Linked DNA regions of Homo sapiens. Each later gene encodes a partner of the first gene's protein in a complex. Each region holds a gene or a part of one and is shown on either strand. Other genes may lie near its edges. A codon is read from its position in the direction of its gene.

Region 1 (3,402 bases):
CTTAGTATATTTATCAAACTAGTAGCTAGAAAGTGAATATGCACATTACTAAGACAAAAAACAAGTGTAATTCAGAACTACTTGATTTTTTTTAGTTAAATGCAATAATTATTATGCTTAGTTTTATAACCTGCTCTCCTTGTGAATTCTTCCTTCAAATGATTACTTAACGCAGTAGTAATAGCTAGCTGTAGGATGTCCTTTAAATTTTTGTGCAAAAAAAAATTTATACCAGGTATTTGGAAATATACTTTACAATATTGGAAAATGAAGTATTTTTAATGTATTACAGCAATTATGTTTCTAAGCTTAATGTTAAGCATGTAGTCTTAGAATAGGACATGAAATTAAATTGTATGTAGCTTGGAATATATTGCTTCAGAAAACTGAATGTGTATGTCGGTCATATTGCCTTTATAACCATGCTAATATCTATGCTTTATACATACTCAAACTTGCCTTGCCTTAAAAACATACATACTACATACTTAAATCAGGAATTCTAGCCATCTCACAGAATACCAACTAAAACTAAGTGCATTGAGATCTGAGATTGGTAAACCCAGATTCATTTACCACAGCTGTAATTAAGTTTTTAGAAACTATTCTCTTTTTGGGGAAATCCATTGAAGTTAATTTCTGTTATCTTATTAGAAGAAAATGATGTTGATATGTGTTTCAGATTTTCCATTTGAAATCTTATAATTAATTTGATTTATTTACTGTAAGTAGGAGGTATAAATGACACTCTTAAATTGGAAGGAGGGGTGTTTTAGTGTCTGTTTTAGGTCAAAATTAGTGATTCTATTTTTATCAAAAGTTTTATCCTGAAGTTTCAGGACCACTCTTCCTTAATAAACTTGTTAATGGAAAGCGAGCTTTATGAACATTTAAAAATGTTGCTGCTGCTTTGTTGCTTAAAAAGAAAGTTGCCAAGAGAGACTTCTTAGGGAAAATATTTGGGTTTTTTTTCCAAAAATTGCTGAAATATTGTTTTGCCATTTTTAAAAAGTCTCAGGTTATTACCACTCTGCCATTAAATATTTGTATGCCTGCATTTTTAAAAATTCTGTGCATGTACTTTATGGAGTACATTCTATTTTTGTTTTCAGATACCCTACAACCAATTTTTTTTAGTAATCTTTTAGAATTGAAATTATCATAAATGATCGAGAATAATCATCACATAGTTTAAGATTGTATATGTTGAGTAGTTTAAAACAATCTTTGCATTTTACAGTAAGAATCAAAGTCCCTTCAGTGTGCCTTTGTCAGCTAATATGTGACCAGCAATGACAACCTTGGGAGTATTTATTAAATATTATGCTATGAATATAGGCAACACAGAACAGGGTTTGCAGTATAGCGTCTTGATGCTAAATTCTCATATACCTCTACACGAGAAATATGGAGGAGAAAAACAAGCATTTACATATATTCTTCGTCACTTTGAAGATGCATGGCCTGAACTCGACTGCTTGTGTTTGTTTACATATCAGGCATACCCAGGCATCTCCTGCAGCCAGAGGTTCCATTGCTGTCTTTGCTCAGTCCTCTTTTAAAATATGAATTAGTGGACAGGCACGGTGCCTCACACCTGTAATCCCAGCACTTTGGGAGGTCGAGGCAGGTGGATCACGAGGTCAGGAGATCAAGACCATCCTGGCTACCACTGAAACCCCATCTCTACTACAAAAAAATTAGCCGGGCGTGGTGGCGGGCACCTGCAGTCCCAGCTACTCGGGAGGCTGAGGCAGGAGAATGGTGGGAACCCGGGAGGCAGAGCTTGCAGTGAGCCAAGATCACGCCACTGCACTCCAGCCTGGGCAACAGAGCAAGACTCTGTCTCAAAAAAAATAAATAAATAAATTATGAATGAGTATTTTCTAGAAATTCAACTTGCTAAGCCTGTAATACTTAAGGGTAGTTTATCTAGATACAGTACTTTCTTCCCTGATAAGTAGTATCATTGGAGCCCTTAGGTATAGGAGAAGAGGAAGAAGTTTAAAAAGTGTAAGTGGGCCGGGCGTGGTGGCTCATGCCTGTAATCCCAGCACTTTGGGAGGCCGAGGGGGGCGGATCACGAGGTCAGGAGATCCAGACTATCCTGGCTAACAAGGTGAAACCCCGTCTCTACTAAAAATACAAAAAAAAACATTAGCCAGGCGTGGTGGCGGGCGCTTGTAGTCCCAGCTACTCGGGAGGCTGAGGTAGGAGAATGGCTTGAACCCAGGAGGCGGAGCTTGCAGTGAGCCGAGATTGCACCACTGCACTCCAGCCTGGGCGACAGAGCAAGACTCCGTCTCAAAAAAAAAAAAAAAGTGTAAGTGGATTAAAAGAGAAACTTGGTCTAGTTCATAATATTTTTAATAGGGCTTTCCCTGGCTGCTGGAAAACTTAGGCCAGTAAGCATCTCTTTGTTTAAAGTCCTACAAGACAATTTGAAATAATTCATTGTTCATGCCAAAATTCTAAGTACTGTTTTTCTTAGCAAGTGTAACATAATCAGGAACAATGGGTACAAGTAAAACATTCTTTGGATGATATTCAAAGCCTTATTAGCACTGCACCTGAATAATAGGTCATTTTGCCTCACTCATTTGCCAAAGTAGCCATTTCTAAGTTAAGGAAGTTTTTAGATAGGCTCATAGCCTTGTATTTCGTTTTAGATTGTAAGCTCAATGGCAGGGATACTATATTGGTAATTATGTTTTCATATAGCAACCACCACAGTATATTCTTGGTGCTTAATAAATGTTTATAATTGTTAACAATAACCTGTTGTATATTGTTTATTTTGAATGGTATATATGTGAAATACATATGAAAATTGAAGTATTCATGAATATATAATAGAAACAAGTAAATGAATAAAATGACCTGGTTACTATAGATAAGCCAAATTTTGAACCATCTAGAACAATGGTGTAGTCTTCCCTCTACTCAATGTAAATGCTGGGTTTTTTAATTATTATTATTATTAAGAAGGAGATACAGTCCAGGCACAGTGGCTCACACCTGTAATCCCAGCACTTTGGGAGGCCGAGGCCAGTGGATCACTTGAGGTCAGGAGTTTGAGACCAGCCTGGCCAACACAGTGAAACCTCATCTCTATTAAAAATACAAAAATTAATAGGGCGTGGTGGTGTGCACCTGTAGTCCCAGCTACTTGGGAGGCTGAGGCAGTAGAATCACTTGAATCCAGGGGGCAGAGGTTGCAGTGCAATGGTGTGCTGGGATTACAGGCAATGAGCCACTGTGCCCTGCCCTCAGCTGGAGTGCAATGGTGCAATTAAGTTCTTTCTTTTTCAACTCAAAATTTGTCTGCATCTTTACCCAAATATCCAGATCTGATACTCTAGGCTTGGGCTAATATAGTGGGGTGGAGGAGGCTTGGGTTAA
Region 2 (7,125 bases), on another chromosome or scaffold:
TTCCCCTCCTTTTCACCACCCATGGTTGGTTCTATGATGGAGGTTGGAGGCAGTGGGCAAAGAGCCCCTGGGACAGGTGGGGATTGTGGGGAGGGTCAGGCCTTCTTATCTGGAGATGCTGTGCCCCAGCACCTCTACCCTCACTGCCCCCTGCTCTGAATTCTCGCTGCCCACTCTACCCATCTGCCCCGAACATGCTGGGTACATGGGATTGGGTGGTGGGTGGAAGGGAGGGGCAGTGTATGCCAGCTTTGGAACATGTGGCCCCATGGAAACAATTGGTGTTTTTTGTTTTCTACGCAGACATAGTCAACTGTGACCTGAAATCTACACTACGAGTGTTGTACAACCTCTTCACCAAGTACCGTAACGTGGAGTGAGGGGCTGCCCTGGGCCCACCACTGCCCAAGAGTTCTTGCTGTTGGCGTACTGGACCCTCCTCCGAACTGCCTTACCCTGCTTATTCCTGTCTCTTGCACTGTGCTCTCCCACAAGTCCAGCTGCAACCCAGAGATAGTGGAAACTGAAATTAGGAAGGAAATCATCAATAACTCAGTGGGCTGACCCATCCCTCCCAGGCGCTGGGGACCAACCTAGCAATGAAGGTTGGGAAGGTTGTTCCCTTCCCGGTGCCAGGTCCAGATTTCCCTCCATGATTTGGGAACCAGCTTAGGCAAAAGAGTCCCCACAAGATGAAAATAAAGATCCTAGTTACCATTCAAAGGATGCTAACTGTGTGTCAGGCCCCACACTAAGTGCTCTGCTCTGATATACTCAAGGCCATTAATCTTCAGGACTCCCATTGACGTAGGTGTTTCATTCCCCTTTTACAGATGAGGAAACTAAGGCTTGGAGGTTAAATGACTTGCCAGAAGTTGGAATTTTTTTCCTCTTTGAACATAACCTCTCCCTTCTCCCTAAAGGTAACCACTATTCTGAGTCCAATCATCAAGGTTTTGCTTTTCTTTTTAGCTAAGTATGCATTCCTCAATAGTAGACAGTACAACATGTTTATAACAAGCCAATTACATTATGTTCTTTGCATGTTCTAAAGTTGTGTATGTGTGTGCACATCTGAGCACGTGCACATGTACACCTGAGCCAAAAACACGAGAACCCACTGATCTCACCACTGGGGCAAGCTAGGTCAGAGCTTAGTGATTCACACTGAAATTGGCAAATTGGATTTAACCCAATTAATAGTGTGTGTGTGGCAGGAGTCATGTCCCTCACATCCTTTGTACAAATGAAAATTACTCTTAATTCCTTCAGATTTATAATAACTCTGTACTTTGGTTTCAGGGTGACATTTGGGAAGGATTTTGTTTAGAATTAATGGAGTGGCACATTTTGCAGCCTTTTTGCTTGATTGCATGTAATGGAAATGCCCTATATTTTCCTGCAAAATAAGTACTAAATTCATTATCGTTAAGCAAATGTACAATATGCTCAGGCACCGCAGAGAGCTGGGCACGGGCCCATGTGAGCATCACTTTGGAAGTAGGGCTCTTCAACAGGGACCCTTGAACTTTAAAGAAAGGAACTTCTTTTTGCCTTCTAATTGATCATTTAGACTATTCTGGCTAAGTCTGCCCACATGTAATTACCGGCTAATTCAAGCGAGGAAAAATGTAAGTCATTTAGACCAAAGCCAAGCAGTTTCTTTGCGTGGGTTACTCAAGGGCTTGTGGTTACTTGTATCTCCTCTATGTGAACTTGACTTTGAAAGACAGAGCTCTAGTGTGCCAGCCTGCTAAGTCCTGTAAGAATAGGGAAGGGCGGAGGGGGGTGGGCAGTGACTAGGGGACGAGAAGCATGGGGAAAATATTTGCACTCTAAACATACAGAGATAGAGGTGGGGCTTGTGGTACTTAACACTTGTAGCCATCAACTGACTGAGACCTTGGGCTAAATAATCAATTGTGCTGATATTACATCTCGTTATGGAATGTTCCTAAATATGCCAGGTAGACACCAGCCCAAGTACCCTCCTCCAGAAGTCTGTGACTACCTTGTCACTACTTTAGGCCCATTCCACAAAGCCCATCTCTGGTTTGAGAATTCATTTTGATCTGTATCTACACCACCCAAAGTTAGGCCTCCTATAATGTCCAAAACATTCCTTTCAGCCTTTTTATTTCTTACTGTACTGTCTCTTACTGTACTGTCTATCTGCAGTAATTGAGGACCCATAAAATTTAGATAACTACATGTCTTTGCTCTTAGAATTGTCACTCAGCATAATGAGCATTTAACATACAAAGGCAATGTACTGTTTTGTGTTGATCTATGTAAAAGAATACAATTCTTTTTTACATAATTAGTGAAATTTTATTTTTTATTAGGAAACACTAAATAGTGTAATATTTCTTTTGCTTTTAAAAAAATTCCTGGTAGCAAATCAAGATAAATAATTGCTTCATTTTCTTGAGCAATACTGAAGCAGGATGAAGTAAGAGGAATGCATTCATTTAAACATGCTTTGCTTTATGAATTTTGTCTCTTTTTTGGTCTCTTTTTCTTATATTCAAGTTACAAATGTACAAGTATCCTTACTAAGAGTGCTCCTTTTGTATTTTACATATATACAGTATGAAAATACATTGGAACACTAGGAAAGTTTTTAAATAACAGTTCTAATTTATCAGAAAATTGTGTTTTGGGATTGAGTTCTTTGTCTCAGCCCAGAATCCCAGGTCCTGGGCCTGGTTTTCTAATGCTGTCATCTCAGTTCGATATTTTACTTTAGAACCTGGAATCTCCTACTTAATATATGACCATGACTTTGAAAGGCAAAAGAGGAATCAAGAATAAATAAAACAAACTTAATCTTCATCTTTAAAAAAAAGAAAAAAGAAACCAAAATGAGAATCAACACTTCATAGGCTCACTGGGTTTTCTTTTCTTTTCTGTTAATTTAAACTCAGTTATTTTTAATGCTTAATACATACATGGTGCAAAATTTAAAAAGCGCAAATAGGTATCTAGTGGAAAACCTAAGCCTCCCTCTCTCCTCCGGCACCCATTACCTCTCCCTGGAGGCAACTGTTTTGATCCATTTCTTACACACACTGCCAGAGATACTCTAGGCATGTAAAGCACAAACATACATATAAAATCTGCGGGCTTCAAAAAATATAAGTAGGATGTCATCTATACTGTCATACACTTTGTTTTTTATCACTTAATGTTATATCTTGGATATTGTATTACCCTGGGTATTAAAAAGAACTCCTTTCACATTTTAAAATAACAATCTGAGCACTTCATAAATCCAAATGCGTATCTCCAGTCTGCTCGAGCTAGGAAAGGAAAAAAGCCCTAGCCGAAGGAGGAAAGGCTGCCTAGACAATGATTTCAAAAGTAGAGTCTAAAACCTATGGGGTGCAGGACCAGAGGCTGGGGCACATTATCAGAGGCATCCTCATGTGCCTCGAACCGAATGTTTTTAAGTCCTCTTTTGGAACCTTATGGTGAATTGTATGCAGATTGATGAAGGTTTCATTTTTATATATTACCAGGACTACGAATTTGTAATCCACTAAGCATCACAAAGGTTACTACATACGCTATAATACTGTACTATAAAGTCTAGCTGCCAGCAATGCAGTGCTCGCCTGCTATATTAGAAGGCTCCAGTTTCACATGTGCAGGCACAGAGATGACATTTCCCGATCTGGGAGAAGGCTTCTTTATCAGCACATCATCAGTGTTGCCTCGAGTTGGTTGCAATTTTCAATTGCTGCTATTGGTGCTTTTTAATTATGAATTACTGTTAGCTTGCATTATCATCAGTTTGTTTTGTTGTGGGTTGCTTGGTTAACCCTACAGAGTATACTTGAAGCTTATTTGCATCAACAGTATTCTGGAGCTGTAATTTTTCAATAACTAGACTCTGAGACATGTATACATTGTGGTTCAAATAGGAATCATCCATAGTCCAGTGCTAGAACAAATGTATACATAATCCACTCCCCACAAATTATCACTCATTTATTTTTCCACTGGAAAATAAGACTAGATGGAGTCGGTAGGTGAAACAGTTTTGCCGTGCCTAAGTGGAGGCTGATCAAAACTAATTTGAGATCCGCTGCCTTTAATAGAGCTCCACCTCAGGAATCTTACCTTTATAATACATCCTAGATAGGCAAGAGGGATATGTCCTGAAATCTTCACTAATTCCAAGATTGCGTGTCATTTCCCCCAAAAATTTGCTTAACTCTATTGGAAAATCCAAGAGAATTGCTGCAGCTGCTGAAAACAAGAGAGCTGCATTAAGCTGCAAGGCCGGGTAGGGTAGGTAGACTGACTCACCACCTATGGGACCTGCCTCCACACATCAGCTTCCCAAATACTTGCAGATTTGGGTCTTACCAAAAGAAAAGTCAGTATGAGTTACTCACAATCCTAACTACAAAGGCTACATTTACAAATACCAGAGTTTCGACTGTGTTTTTACTCTCTGCTCCCTGAAAACTGTAACCCCAGGCTAGCTCCAAACTCTGCTTATAGCCCATGCTTTACTACAGTGGTGGTCGCATATGTGAACGTGTGCATGCGTGTTCACGTGTTCATGACAACAGCAATGCAGCCATGAGGGTGCTGCCCCCAAACCAAGCCTGATGACCTTGAGAACCTCAGGCTTCCCAGTAGGATCCTGCAAGAAAGCATCTCTTAAAAATAAATTCTACAGGATATTAGTAAATGTTAGATGAAAAAAAAAGTCACGTTTAAATATGTTTAGGAAACATGAGGTGAAGAAAGTTAGCTTACTGACGCTTTTTGTTTTCTAGTTGGAGCGCACCTCAGAGTCCCCTACATAATGCGTATTAGGACTTTCTAAGGGAAGACGGGGTACGATGGGTCCCAATCTTGTTTGATCACAGGATGTATCTGTCCCCTGAGAAATTTCTAGGATGAGTACTCTGAACTCAGGACTTCATTTAGTCATATATTCGGCAAGTATGTGTTGAGTGCAGCATGTCCAAGGGTGAGTGAGAGATTATAGCTAGCAGGGGAGACAGATGAAAAATAACTATGAATCGACGTTAGTTACAAATTGTGACTGTCGCGATGGAGAAGTACTAAAATCTATGAAAGAGTTCTAATGTAGATTTAAGGTCATGAGAAGTCTCCGGCAAAGTGGCATTTTAAAGTAATCCCTCAGTCGTGGAGCTACTCCAATGAGAAGCCTGCCACTCCAGGGCGCACCACGGAGGAGGATCCCCAGACAAGAAGACCTGGCTCCCCAGAGGAGTGCGGAAAGCCAGCATGGCTAGAGGACACAGAATGAGGGAGAAGACGGATCCGATCGCAGGCATCGGGAGTGCTGATTTTTCTCCTTTGAAAAACAGGTTGCCATCTACCTTTTTAAATGTCCCACTGTGTAGGAAAACTCTGGGGAAAGCTACGTCAGCAATATGGAGTCTGGGGTTGCCTTTCTCATGTCATACCATGGTCCTGGCTGGGGAGCGGAGGAGACCAGGAGAGGAGATCAGACCTCTGCCCACCCCAACACCAATCTGGTCTTAGCAACCTCTGGGCATCCCATAGCTCCTCCTAACCTGCTGCTGCTGATGGACAGGAACTCCTGGACTACCCCCAGCCTCTCCACAATGTGTCCTGAGAAGAGCTAGGGGAACTGGACAGAGTGGACGAGGCTGCATGTGTGGAGGGAATGAAATAAGGGGCCTACCAGGCCAGAACGCTGATCCATGGAGACCAGTGCTTCCAGCCCTCTCACCTCGGAGGAGGACTCCTGTTTTACCAACGGCAGGAGCAGGAATCCCACCATTCAGCCTGTGGGCTTGACAAACTATAAGCAAGCCTCCTGGATGTGGAATAATACATTTTCAAAATTCATACTAATCAGCATGAACTATAACTGCTCCAATGCCCACCACATTATATAAAATCTACCAAAAGGGGGTCACTTAATGTTTCACAATGTTTGGTGAAACAACTTTCATATGAAAGTACGGTTGATCCTTGAATGATATGGGCACCGACCCCTGAGCAGCTGAAAATTTGCATGTAACTTGACTCCCCCAAAACGTAACTATAATACTAATAGCCTTACTGAACACGGTCAATTAACACATAGCTAGTATGTTATGTGCATTATATACTATATCCTTACCATACGGTAAGCTAGAGAAAAAATGTTACTAAGAAAAACATAAGCAAGAGAAAATATATTTACTATTAAGTGAAAGCAGGTCATCATAAAGTCCTCATCCTCATGGTCATCACATTGAGTAGGCGGAGGAGGAGGAGGAGGAGGAGGAGTAGGGGTTGGTCTTGCTGTCTGAGGGGTGGCAGAGGCAGAAAAAAAATCCATGGGCCGAGCACGGTGGCTCACACCTGTAATCCCAGCACTTTGGGAGGCCGAGACGGACAGATCACAAGGTCAGGAGATTGAGACTATCCTGGCTAATATGGTGAAACCCCGTCTGTACTAAAAATACAAAAAATTAGCCAGGTGTGGTGGTGCGTGCCTGTAATCCCAGCTACTCAGGGGGCTGAGGCAGAAGTATTGCTTGAACCCAGGAGGCAGAGGTTGCAATGAGCTGAGATCGCATCACTGCACTCAAGCCTGGGCAACAGAGCAAGACTGCGTCTCAAAAAAACAAAACAAAACAAAACAAAAATCCATGAACAAGTGGACCTGCCCAGTTCAAATCATTGTTGTTCAAGGGTCAATTGTATATTATTTTCACTGGAAGTTTTGAAATTCCAGAAATATGCTTGGAAATCCCCGCTTGAAATCTCCTTGGTTGGAAACCAGTCCAGTGGGTGACTGGCCCAGAATGATGCTTCTCCTCGGTGGACCCCCTGGGCTGAGCAGCCTGTGTTCCTGCCTCAACTCCCCTGAACCCTCCTGAACTTTCTACACACATGTGGGCACTGGCTTTGATACTGGCATTTGGAAGGGCACTTGGGAAATTCAGAGAAGTACCCATTATTAAGATAAATGATGTTTTATCAATGAAGCAGACTTTTCATTTCTTTTTATTGATCTTCATGTTTTCACATCTTGAGATGCAATTTGTTAGCACAGGCTGTCATTCCAAGACACACAAATGTCATTAAGGCAACCGCTTAAAGGAGTGTGATATTTTATTG
Region 3 (7,376 bases), on another chromosome or scaffold:
GGGTGACAGAGCGAGACCCTGTTTTCAGGAAAAAAAAAAAAAAAAAGAAAAAAAAATTCTTACACTTATAATTAATGTAGCCATGTGAAGTATTTTAATACTTGTATATATTAAGCACTGTGTCAGTGTGTGTGCACTGCTGAGAAGTGAGCCCTGGTGGAGGCTTCGAAGAGCATCCTGGAACCCCCTAGGCTCCGAGAAGTCCTGAGGTCAGGGAGTTTGCAGAGAGCAGCCTTGGCTCAATGCTACAGAAGCCAGAGGAGATGGAATCTGCAAATCTCCAAATTCACTTCCACCCAACTTCCCAAAAAGTACTATTATCCGTTGTTAGCTACTTCTTTAGGAAAATTTAAGAATGATCTCGCTTTTCACCACCCAATGTTATACCGGAAATATATTTCAGGAAGCAAGTGGCTTTTCTTCCTTAATAAAAGCCAAGGCTTCAAAGAGATAACGGAGCTGAACCGAAATAGCTAAGCCATTCTCCCCATTTATAAATATTACATAAAGTCTCCTCTTCAAAAGCCGAAGGGTACAAAGCTCCTCTGCTGAAAGCAGCCTCTCTTCTACCTGGTGAGAATGAGTGCTGTAGGGAGGAAGGCCATGGGGCCAAGGTTCCCGCTATGCATCATCTTCCCTATCCCCTTCTCTTTCTCCTCTGTATCAACAGTGCCCCCAATAATGACCATGGTCATGGCAGAGCCGGGCAGGCGCAGCAAGGGGCAAACTCAGATATCCAATTCCAGAGGCATCTGCTCAGTTGCTGACAGCAAGGACCCTTACGGAATGCAAGAGACCAACACACACCAAGCCTGAGAGGCTAACTAGTACACAACCTAAGTTTAATGGCACGTATTTTCATAAAGCCTACGAAACGCAAATCTACGTTTCCTCCCTTTTCCTTCTGCCAAGACATATCAATAGCATCAACTCCAACCTCTGTCCCAGGCAGGTTTTCGAACCGTGAAAACCGTGAATTCACAGTAAACCTGACTCTGCAGTTCTCTCCATGCCTAAATGGCTATCCATCGCCTTTCAGGGTCTCCTGAACATCTCCCTTCTTCTCTCTTGTCACATCCTGGAGTTGATATCCCAAACTCACAGGCCTAATCCATCATTCTTTCATTTTCTTCATTCCTCAACTATTTTTGAGCATCTACTGTGCTCCAGGCACTATTATTAAAAAAATGCAAGCATGAATATTGCACAGCTTTTGTCTTCCCAATGTCCCAGCAGAGAAGAGAGACTTCTAGATTAAAAAAGAAAAAAATCAGTACAATCCTATGTGAGAGGAGTCACAAAGCAATACACACGACCACCTTCACAGAGGAGGGAAGGGATATGTTAGCCTGGTGCAGACGGATAAGGTTTTACACAGGTGGTGATGTCTAAGCTGACTCTTAGAAGTAAAAGGATTTCAGGTGCAAACGACTGAGAAAGAGGGAAAACAGAATTTGTAAAGGCACCAAGATCTGAACGAGTAGGCTCTGGTCCAGGAAGGGCAACAGGTTCAGAATGGCTGGAATGCCAGCTGCATGGAAGGGTAAGGTTGTGTTCAGATTCAGAAAGGCCTTGTACATCACGCCAAGAAACCTGGAGCATTACCGTCGATAATGGACAACCTGGAGAAGTGCGGAGAGGGTTTAAACCAAAGCCACGTCAGCCTGAAGAACTGCTTTAGCTCACTTATCACAGGTTTTTCAAATATTAGAATTAGTAGCCAACATCTAAAAATTAGCAAATTTCACATAAAAATATAGAATCTTGGTTCCTTTAAGAAAATAATCTGGCACATTGGGCCAACATTCCTATGGTGACATGTGTCTGAGTAGCAGGTGCAGCAGCTGGCCCCTTCAAGTGGGACACCTATCACCTAGTTCATAACCGCCCCTGACCGCCCTCACTTGGAGGCATGTGAATCTGCAATCCCTGGTTTTAAGGGAGAGGGTAACACCATAGACAGGGGTTACAGGAAAATGACACTGAAAGTGACCCAGTGATTAAACTGGGCAGTGAAACTGAAGGCAAGAGGGCAAGTTAGGAGGATTTCACCACAGCATGAGGAGGTGACAAAAGCCTGAACCAAGTTCGGAGAATAAATACTCAGAAGAATGTAAAGATTCAAGAAATGCTTAAAACGCTCCAGGCACAAGAATGCTTATTAACCATGGAACTTTTCTGTGTCATTTGTTCATGGACAAAGACTGTATTAGGAGACAGGAAGAAGGACTCAAAATTAATTTTCAATTTATAATTAAAGTGACTATTAAGCAAACTGTGGAAAATCCACCTCAATGCCATACAGCAGAGACAACCGATGAGGCACAGCTGTCTGTGTGATTCTCATCGTGGACTCTCAGGATCGTTTTCCAGGTGGAACAGAACAAATCCTACTGCAAACCCTCTGCGCGAAGCCCCTGACAAGTGAGGTTTACAAGCAGGGGCTGGGGTCTAAACCAGTACAATCGCTCACAGCAGGACCAGCAGTGAATTGGCAAACTTAGAAAGCCTTCCAGCTCATCCACGGGAGAGTCCTGCCCGAGAACTCACAGAGGCCGTTGACATCCAGCATGTTGGAGATGCCCCGGTCACTCATGTCCACCTCGGGCTGGTTCTTCTCCCGGCTCTCCTCCACCAACTTCTTCAGAGACTTGGACATGGTCTGCACCGAACAACAACAAAGCACGTGGGCGATGACAGCAAGCGCAGAGGCGGAAAGGCAAGAGGCCTTCGCTGCCACTCTGAGGCTTCCCCAGGGTTGGAGCGGGTGGGCGTCCGAGGGCGTCCCAGGGGCTGGTCCGGGTGCGGGGAGGGGATGGAGTGGGAAGGGTTCAGCCCCGCTGCGGCCACGCAGCGAGAAGCAACCCCAAGTGCAACACCGCACACACTCACCACGGAAGGTAGCCCCTAAGACGATGGGCGTGCAACCACAAGCTTCGGCAGAACGCACTCCAGCTGCCCTCACTCCCTGCAACACCGGCACTGAACAGCGAACACGCCCTGTCTCGGCGCCCCGCGCAGGCGCACACAGCGCCGCTGCCAGCTCCACGCCCGACCCTACCCATATTAGGAGAACAGCTCTCCAGACGTGTCTCCAGGGCCAGGCTCCGCCCTTAAAAGTCTGTGGAAGAGGCTGGCTAATCACGTTCGTTATTCGGCTTCGAGACCCCGCCCCACGCTGAGGATAGTTTATCCCGGTGGCGTCCACCCCACGGTTTGGGACGCTGATTGGGCCGAAGTTGGCGCGTGCGCAGTAGACTTGGCGCAAGCTCAGTTGATGGGTCGAAGCCCAGAGGGCTGTGGGCGGAAGTGGGGAAGTTTGTGGCGTGACTGTGTAAGGGAGGGTGGTGGCTCAGGGTGGGTGTTGCGAAAGCTGGAAGTAAATTGCTTCCGAATGTTTCGCTTGTGTAATAGCCGCTCCACTCGCCAGAAGTTGCTACCCTGAGCCCGTCTCCACAATGTGCCTCTGAGGGACCTTGTGGGGCACGCAGTTTCCCGCCCTATTAAGAGCTTCTCCAGGCGGGGATTCCGGCGCGGTCTGCGTTTCCCCAGCGCCCTGCTGGAAATCTTTTTTGACAGGTTTCTAAGGCTGGCTTTTAGCCTTTTTACTTGTAGCTAGAACCTACAAGTAAAACCCTACTATTTTAAAAGTCATTTGAAAACACCACTAAAGCGATGTGTCTTTCCCAACTAGGACTTTTACATTTGTGAAACATGACGTTCTGGCTTCCAGGAATCTCTTGCTTTCTCTTCCAAAAGCAACCAAATTTTAAATTCTAGAGAAACTGTTGCCCTCTGCCTCCCTATTTCCTGACCCAGTCTCAGTCACCCAGCAACATCCTGTGCTTCTCTCACCAAAAACCCTGTCCTGAGAGACTATTTTATACTATGGAATAAAAATTGGCACCAGGCACTTTTCTTCTACTGGTCACCTAAATTGATGATAAGACGGATGCCACACATATGCATTTATATATTGTAGATTGTAGCAGGGATCAAAGCCTTAAGGAGATGTGGTAAAATAATGTAATTATATCTCCGAACCAATTGGATAAAAAAAGGATCTGCACTCTTAAATTCGAAAGCAGGTATTTCTTGCTTAAAAAACATTCCAGATGAAAGAGTTATTCCTCCATTAGTCTTCTTTGATCTGGAACCGTCCTTGGCTTTTATGTTTATTGAACTAGACATTATTTAAGAATACAGACCAGGTATTGTGTGGAATATCCTTCAAAGTAAGTTTGATGTTCCCTTTCAGGTTATGAATTTTTGGAGAAACACCACTAAAGCGATGTGTCTTTTCCAGTGCATGATATCAAGGTACAGATGGCATCGGTTTCTCCCAGTATAGGTGATGTTCACTTAAATAAGGTAGTGTCTGCCAGGTTTCTTCACCATAAAGTTACTATTTTTTTCTTTATGATTAAAAATAATGCTGGGGGGAGGTGCTACTTGATTACACCCCATTCCTCATCTAATTTTTACCCACAAGTTTTAGCATCCACTGATGATTTTCTAACTTCATAATTTCATCAATACGTATTAGTAGGTAATCTCCTAATACATTTATTTCTTGAATCATTAACTCTTTTAAAGCAAAAGTCCTGTTTTGAAGCAATCAGAATTTTTCTTATTCTATCAATTTCTAATAGTGAATCTTGCCTAGGTAGGCTGAAGACATACAGTACCTGTGTTAGTCGGCTAGGGCTGTCGTAACAATATACCACAGCCTGGATGGCTTAAACAACAGAAATTTCTCACAATCCTGGAAGTTCTAGATCAAGGTGCCAGCAGATTTGATTTATCCTGTGGCCTCTCCCCTGCCTCGTGGACGACTGTCTTCTCTTGGTGTCCCTCCAGGGCATTTTCTCTATGCAGTCACACCCTTGGTGTCTCTTCTTCTAAGGACACCAGTCCTATTGGACTGCCGGCCTATAATAACACCCTGCATTTGTTTCATGAATGTACTCTCTTCTCAGGTATCACCGAGGATAATAGTTTTTAAACCTCTCTTCTGTTCACTCAATTATGTTTCTTCAAGGGTCCATTCTTACGTGTATTTATCTAGTCTTTTCCCTAGAAAAGAAAGATTCTTCCCCTCTCTGGTGATTGATTCTTGGTTGTTCTTTTGAGTTCAAGTGTGAAGATCTGAACTGGTTTTTCTAGATAGCTGGAGTGGTCTCTTGTTTGTTTGTATTGTTTTCCTCCTAGATCCCTAGACTGATAGTCGAATTTCTTCAGAGGCAAGAACCCAGTATTATGCCTGCAGGTCATCACCCGGCTACCTTTGCAGGTGGAGGGAAATGGTGGATTGTGAGTGCCAGTTAGGGCAACTCCCTGACTTTGGTTTTAGCCCCTCACACTGCACCAGCCAGCCCCACATCCAGGTTACACCTGGAACAGAGAGTCCCAGCCCTCCTGCATGTCTCTCTTGAAGTTATTTTGAGCTGCATGCCTCCATTCACTTCTGTTTCATAGGAATTTGTTTTCACTCCTGTTTGAGATAGGAAAAACCAAACTGTTTTTGCTACTCTCCACTGGCTCAACACTTCTGACACCAGAGAATCCCCCACACATGAAACAGTTCTCCAGCAGACACCAGCTCGGTGTCTTACAGTTTAACTTAATTCTGACACTGTCTACCTCAACTTATAGTCAAATCCCACAAGTTAAGGGTTCATTTCCACAAGACTTTAGGTTGACTGTCACCTACACTTCTGACTGACCAGCTATAAATCAGGGTTCCCACACCCCCTTCTCAGGTTTGATTAATTTGCTAGGATGATGGTTAGCCTGTCCAGGGTCCTGATTGCTAGCAGTGAAACTTCATGGTGACACAATTTGGAATCAGGAAACTTATCCCTTGGCCACTAGATCTGGGAAGTTGGCTCAATGTATGTTTCACCAGATAAGAATATTAAGGTTTTTGCCTCAGGACTGGCTCAGGAAATCAAGCAAGATGGAGCTGGGAAGTGTGCTTTGTGAAGCTGGGAGACATCAGCTGATAGTCTTGTATGGCTGTCTTGTTCTCTGCTTTATCCTCAGTGCGCTGAGTACGTATCACATAGCTGATGCTCAATAAACATTTGGAAACAAGTGAATTAAATGTAAAGCAGAACCAGAGGATATACGGTGGGTCTTACGAATGAGAGTACAGTTGACTCTTTTCTCCTTCTTCCAGCTGAATTACTCAAAAACTGAATTACTCAATAACTACTTCCCTTGGCTATACACGAAAATGTCATGCTCCCAAGCCTGACCATCCCTAACCCACTAAAAAATCACTGCTTATTTCCTAGATGCCCAGCCTGGAAGATTTTGTAAAGCTTCATTTTGTCTCTTTTTTTCTGTATTTTTAATTTTAAAATTACATAATAATATTGACTATGCTTTCCTCAATTTCAGGTACACACTTCCCAGATATTCCAATATGCCTCCTAGAAAAGCATGCCCTTCTGAGTGGAAATGATACCGTTACTCTAATGATGCAGTCCATGCTCTAAGCATCATTTTTTTGACAGTGACATCATGTTAATCTTTCTTTCAGAAAAGTACTATGTCATTTCATGTTATTGTTAAACTTTCCCTGTATTCTGTACTTTTGCAATTCATTTTTTGATAAAAGAGGAAGATCTTATATCTGTCACATTTCGTCTGTTACAATTGGCCCATTGTTGTAGCTTATCAAGACCTTTTGGATTTGATGGTGTTACTTATCGCATTCACTGTCCTTTCCAATGTAATTGTCACCCATAAAGTTGATATGTCTATCCATAATACAAAAAGGGAGCAGGAATTGTTGTTGTTGTTGTTTGTTTTTTTGAGATGGAGTCTCATTCTGTAACCCACACTGGAGTGAAGTGGCGCGATGTTGGCTCACTGAAACCTCCGCCTCCTAGGTTCAAGTGATTGTCCAGCCTCAGCCTCCTGAGTAGCTGAATTTTCAAGGTTAGAGTATTTTATTTCTGTGGCTCCATACTCTGTCCAGAAATAATTATCTGCCATTTGAGTATTAGAGTAAGATGAAGTTACATTCCTCAGCTTCTCTCATTCACATGGTCTTTTGTTAATAACCCTTGATTTTGCATAATTAACATAAAGCAAATCTCCTTTGTAAAGGCTTCCGCTTTTCTAGAGGCACTGAAAAACTTTATAAAAGCATTGAATTTTCTTATGAAAAGGAAGCTAATAACTACCTCACTTAGTTACATGTCTGGCAGCATTGGAGATAAGGATGTGCTACTGAACTTTCTACTTCTTGTTAAGTGGCAAACCATATTGTTTATTTATAACTTAACATATTGTGTTAAGGAATAGGCAATGGTGGTGCTTATGGAAACTTTGTACTCCTGAGCGTAAATACATAATAGAGTTTG

What was found.
Region 2: LIMS1 (region 1) and PARVA share a complex: the UniProt entries of both Homo sapiens proteins name them as parts of the heterotrimeric IPP (ILK-PINCH-PARVIN) complex.
Region 3: the proteins of LIMS1 (region 1) and RSU1 are in contact, whole or in part, in a crystal structure (PDB 7LT9), measured with the Homo sapiens proteins. Residues at the interface, in NP_001180417.1 of Homo sapiens: Cys252, Phe253, His254, Cys255, Asn256, Leu267, Asn268, Lys269, Ser279, Thr280, Cys281, Asn282, Thr283, Glu293, Phe294, Asp295, Met296, Lys297, Cys303, Lys306, Phe307, Pro308, Glu310, Leu311, Arg314, Leu315, Lys317, Leu318, Ala319; in NP_036557.1 of Homo sapiens: Asp21 (codon at 2,599), Ser23 (codon at 2,593), Asp24 (codon at 2,590), Gln44, Val46, Ser48, His49, Val67, Asn69, Phe71, Asn72, His90, Asn92, Met95, Glu112, Asp115, Thr117, Tyr118, Arg137, Ala138, Tyr140, Ser142, Asp143, Ile161, Ser163, Arg165, Asp166, Glu184, His186, Gln188.

Annotation. Positions count from the first base shown.
Region 1 is NC_000002.12:108,684,470-108,687,871, forward strand, and holds the end of LIMS1 (LIM and senescent cell antigen-like-containing domain protein 1), read left to right. Parts: 3' UTR 1-2,777; downstream 2,778-3,402. UniProt on the Homo sapiens protein: Within the IPP (ILK-PINCH-PARVIN) complex, binds to F-actin, promoting F-actin bundling, a process required to generate force for actin cytoskeleton reorganization and subsequent dynamic cell adhesion events such as cell spreading and migration.
Region 2 is NC_000011.10:12,527,546-12,534,670, forward strand, and holds part of PARVA (alpha-parvin), read left to right. Parts: intron 1-303; coding exon 304-380; 3' UTR 381-7,125. UniProt on the Homo sapiens protein: Plays a role in sarcomere organization and in smooth muscle cell contraction. Required for normal development of the embryonic cardiovascular system, and for normal septation of the heart outflow tract.
Region 3 is NC_000010.11:16,814,423-16,821,798, forward strand, and holds the start of RSU1 (ras suppressor protein 1), read right to left. Parts: upstream 3,003-7,376; 5' UTR 2,893-3,002; intron 2,663-2,892; 5' UTR 2,660-2,662; coding exon 2,551-2,659; intron 1-2,550. UniProt on the Homo sapiens protein: Potentially plays a role in the Ras signal transduction pathway. Capable of suppressing v-Ras transformation in vitro.